Linked DNA regions of Homo sapiens: region 2 is linked to region 1. Evidence: fine-mapped expression QTL. Tissue or cell type: whole blood. Region 1 holds a variant in brackets; the other region holds the start of a gene. All regions are shown on one strand. Distances are between the middles of the regions.

Region 1 (2,762 bases):
AAACCCAGCTACTGGGGAGGCTGAGGCAGGAGAATTGCTTGAACCCAGAGATAGACGTTGCAGTGAGCCAAGATTGTGCCACTGCACTCTAGACTGGATGACAAGAGTGAGATTCTGTCTCAAAAAATAAATCAATCAATAAATAATTATAAAAATAAAGATAACCAAAGTTTCCACATTTAATGACAATTCTATCTTGAGAGCCACTGTAGAGTTACCAGGAGGAGCTAGAGCTGGTTAATGGTGGAGAATGTGCAGGAAGTGTCTAAAACTGTCAGGGCTAGACTGGCTGGGGAACAAAACTGGGTAGTCAGGATTGGGTATTGGGTACATGATGTTTTACTGAGGTAGTTTTAGTGCCAGTGATATTTCAGTGTTCAGACTTAATTCATTACTGTAAAGAATAAATTATTAAATTTTCAGCTTTTAAAAAATCATCAAATAATCTGTGTAGATAATCTCCTTAATGTCAGGATGAAATGAGGGTCAGATGAGGAATTCAGGAATGGGGCTGGACACAGAGATGTGGTGAGAGATGGTGAAGCTTATGAATGGGGTAAGGTTGTTACCCATGTCATTTGTTCATTTTTTAAAAGTGATAACCAATTTCTCTGAGTCTAAGATCTCCTAATCAAGCCAGCCCTTGCACGGCTACAAAACTAACCTCCCTAAAACACAGGTGAGACTATGGCACTCTCTTCCTTTCTGGGCTGCTCCTTATTGGCTTGATTTTTAGGGTCCAGTATATCCAAAGTGTCAAAACAAAAATGTATTACTTCAGAGGGACATGCAGGAGGAAGAGGTTAAGCACTGAGTGCTAACCACAGTCTGCCTTGGGCAGAAGCAGAAAGAAGCCTCAGGCCAAATGATAGAAGGGAAGTCGCTTTCTGTTTTTGTTGCCGGAAAGGGCAAAGAATCAAAACACCACTTTCGCAATGAATGATCTTACAAAATTGCAATAACTGTGACAAGACCTGAAAGACAAAACGCATTTTTGAAACATCTTCATGCAGTATCTTTTTGCTTTGAAGTATTTCCCATTTGAAAATTGGGATTGTTTGATGATGTACCATCATCTCTGGTATCAAGACAAATACCAAGACAAATCTTGGTAGATCAAGACAAATAAAATATTGTGAGAAAATTGGGATACAGAACCAGGTTCAAATCCAGGCTTTACCACGTATCAGCTGTGTGTTTTTAGGCAAATCTTAACCTCGCTGAATCTCAGTTCTTTCATTAATTAAAGGGGAATAATTTTACTACCTGAGCCTTAGGATTGTTAGAGTGCCTCAGACAGTCAGCATTCAGTAAATATTCAAATATTCATCAAATAGCAACAGTGGTTAGTGGGATTACAGTTGATTATTTATTTTAGGTCTCTGTATTTCTTAGATTGTCTACCATGAGTATATGTTGTTTTTGTAATTAGAAAGAAAAATAAAACTTATTCTTTTTAAAAATGAAGGCCGGAGGGCTGGATACAGTGGCTCATGCCTGTAATCC[C/T]AGCACTTGGGGAGGCCAAGGCAGGAGGATCACTTGAGCCCAGGAGTTGGAGAGCAGCCTGGGCAACATGGGAAAACCCTATCTCTATCAAAAATACAAAAATTAGCCAGGCATGGTGGTGTATGCCTATAATCCCAGCTACTTGGGAGGCTGAGGTGGGAGGATGGTTTGAACCCAGGAGGCGGAGGTTGCAGTGAGCCGAGATCGCACCACTGCACTCCAGCCTGGGCAACAGAGCCACACCTTGTCTCAAAAAAAAGGCCTGGTGTGGTCACTCATGCCTGTAATCCCAGTGCTTTAAAAGGCCAAGGAGGATCGCTTGAGGCCAGAAGTTCAAAACCAGCCTGGGGAATGTAGTGAGACCTCGTCTCTACAAAAAATGGAAAAACAAAAAAAAATTTAACTGGGTGTGGTAGCACACGCTTGTAGTCCTAGCTATGTAGAAAGCTGAAGCAGGAGGATCTTTGGAGCCCAGGAGTTTGAGGCTGCAGTGAGCCATAATCATGCCACTGCACTACTGCCTGGGCAACAGAGCAAGACTCTGTCTCAAAAAAATAATAATAATAAAAATTAAAGACGAGGGGCATAATTTCTCATATTTTTACATTTGCTCTCCCCACCCTTGTCTCTTTTATGTCTCTTTCTGCTGTTATAAAGAGTGCATGCTGTCTATGCAGCGATATTCAGAAGGCATCATAGAATGACAGTCATTCTCTATTCTCCAGCACAGTGCTTTTGGGGTCAGCTGACTCTACCCAGGCCTGCAGTACTGAAATGAGGCTCAGATCAGGGTGGTGTCTGTGTCCACGGGAGATCTGTTCTCTCGATTACATATCGATTCCCATCCTACCATTTCCTCAGTTTGACACTAAGCTGGATGCTCCCAGCCATCCCCAGTCCTCAGACAACTGTATTTTTTCCCTCTAGTTTTATTTATTCGGCACCAAGGCCTAGTGGCACCGACATGGCTGCAGGAGTCAAGCCTGCAGTTGGTCTTTGAAAAACAGGGAGAGTGTGGGCGAGTGCATTAAAGGAAGCAAAGCTCTGGCAGCAAACCAGCTTCTAATCTTGACGCCACCCCTGGTTCTCTTCTTTTCTTTATCATTTTAGGCTTGTGGGTCCCAGATCTCCATATTTGCCTTCTGGAACTGCTTTAGCAATAAGAAAAAAGATGGATGAGGGAATTAGGGCCGAGTTACTCCAGCCCCATGAAGCACTCCAGCACCAGGAAGCATAACCTGAGGCTCCATCACGTT
Region 2 (2,500 bases), 160 kb after region 1:
TTAGGAAAGGCAATAATGCTAAATATTAACATTTATTGAGTAAGCTACATTCTGGCCACTATTGAGTACTTTACGTGTAAGAACCCTCAAAACAACTTTATGAGGTAGATACTACTATTACTTCATTTTAAAGATGGGGAAAAGGAGGTATGGGAGTGTTAGGTTAACTTGCCTGAGATTATGTAACTAATAAATGGCAGAGATGGGCTCTGAACCCAGGTAGTGTGGGTGCCTTAATTTATGAAGTGGTCTTCATATGAATGGCCTTTTTATTCTGAAGGTTCTAGGACTTTTTAGATAGTAAGTTGGAAACATTGGTAGATCCTTTCCTACCTCTTCACCTTTGGCACAGCTATCTCAAAGGAGTATCGGTGATAAGATAGGTGATCAGTTTAGGGATCCACAGTGGAGGCCAGAGGACTGTTCCAAACACTGATCCCCCATATATAAACTGAGAACTGGGAAGACAGACCTGCTTTACGGCTGGTGGCCAAGCTCAGATATTTCAAATTGGACAGAGACCCTTTACTATCCTATTCAAGAAGAAAAGGAATTGGAGCTGTGAAAGGGAGAATAAGTATTGGTGGCAATCGGTACTTAATGCCAGTATTTTTTTTTTTTTTTTTGGCTATTGTTTTGTATTTCCTATGAAACTTTTCTGCAGATCCACATAGAAAAAAAATAGACATTTTTACAATAAAACTCCCACTAATTAAGCACAGCCAAGCACTGTTTTAAGTGTTTTATACATATTAGCTCATTTAATCCTCACAGCAACCCTAGGCAATAGGCTCATTATTTGTCTTTTGCAAAGGAGGGGCACTGAAGCACAAAGACATCTACAACTCGTCCACAATTGTACAGCAAATGAATGGGAGAACTAAGTGAAGCTGGAAAGAACTACTATAAATTGTAGACAAGTACAAAACAATTGGTTAAAGATTAATACTTCTGAGACACTGTGTAGCAGAAAGAAACCCGGATTTGGATTAGGACTTGAATTCAGCCTCCAACATTTACTGCTGTGTAAAGATTTGAGGCTGATCACTCCTATAAAATTTGGATTATAATACTTACCTCATAGGGTTTTTGTAAAGATCTAGTGACGTGATTATTGTAAAAGTGCACCGTTAATCTCTCAGATGTCACAGAAACGTTAGAAGCATCTCTTCCCAGGATTGTACATGGAAATGAAGGATCCACAGATTTTGTGGCTATAAAACACCCGGACTACCGATCCCAGTGTGCAAAGCCTCCAGGCTTACCTTCCCGGAAACTGGCGCGGTGCCCTCTGGGACTTGTTCTGGGACTTGTAGTCTTGTACTGGCGCTGGCCCGCCTTTCTTCCTTAGTGGGGAAAACCGGGTGTAAGCCCCGGAAGTACTTGTTGCCTGAGCAGTGGGCTGCTTAGGAAGAGAAGGTCAGAGTTCGCGGGGGCAGAGGCATTCTTGCCGCTGGCCCAGTCACTATGTAGTGGAGGGGCAGACACCCTCCCGCAAATTCTGGAAGGTTCTTAGTCTCGACTAGGGCAGTAGCCCCAGGACTCCTAGTCGCCGGCTTCAGGTCACTGCCGGCTGAACGGAGCTGCCGTCGCCATGTTTGGCTGCTTGGTGGCGGGGAGGCTGGTGAGGATGGGACCGGGTGATATCAGGAAGGGGTCAGGATACCGAGGGCGAAGCCCTACGGCAGGGAGGGTGCGCAGGCGCTAGGGATGCGGGGAAGCCCACTTATTATATTTTGGGTGGGTATGTGAGGATGGAGCGTGGGAAGCTGGGTGCTCTCCTTTGCCCAGCTCTATTCAGATTCTTTCGAATAGTAGTCACAGTATAAGTTGGCATTTATTAAGTGTGCATTTTGTACCAAGTACTGGGCTAAGTGCAATGCACGCCTTTGGTCACTCAGCCTTATGTGTGGCGCTTATTTGGCACTTTGAACTTAATCCTCATAACTCGTGAGATGGTCTTTATCTTTGACATTTTGCAGTTACAGAACTAAGTTCAATCGCCAGTATAAATACCTTCTTTATTAACTTGAGGTAGAGGTGAATTTGGGATTGAATTTGGTCTATAGCAAACTGTTTTTCAAAGATTAAGGTGCTCAGGGAATGTATATCTTTTGGGTCCCTTTGGAAGAACCCGAGTAAAAATAAGCTTAATTTAATTGGAAGTTGGCTGAAACTTAACGTGTGAGCCGTATCTGAGATAACCAGAGAAGGATGCGAGTAGTGTGTTTCCTTATGGGTCAAAATAGATAACTTACCTTGCCAAATTGTTAGAGTAAATGAGAACAGCACCTGGAATTCTTTAGGAATAATCTGGAAGGTGAATCTTGTTTGTTTCCTTAGAAACCACACAGACATCAATTTTCAGGCCTGATTCCTTTCCCCTAGAAGTATTTTTCCTTCTTTTTTCTCCTGGCTTTTTAAAATGTTGCAGTCCCTTTGCTGAATTGTCTTTTTTTCCCATCAAGTTTTGATAATGTATTGTATTCTGTACATATAC

Evidence for each region. PIP is the estimated chance that this variant, and not a neighbour inherited with it, causes the effect.
Region 2: it holds the start of HIKESHI, and the variant in region 1 is fine-mapped to the expression of HIKESHI in whole blood (TOPMed, PIP 0.92).

Annotation. Positions count from the first base shown.
Region 1 is chr11:86,138,257-86,141,018 of GRCh38, forward strand. No RefSeq gene overlaps it. Among named protein-coding and RNA genes, the nearest start is that of LINC02695, 54 kb to the right of the region's middle. The variant C/T (reference allele first, on the strand shown) is at 1,507.
Region 2 is chr11:86,300,855-86,303,354 of GRCh38, forward strand. HIKESHI (heat shock protein nuclear import factor hikeshi) reads left to right here and starts at 1,386. Exons shown (of 5, transcript NM_016401.4): 1 at 1,386-1,624. The coding sequence starts at 1,595.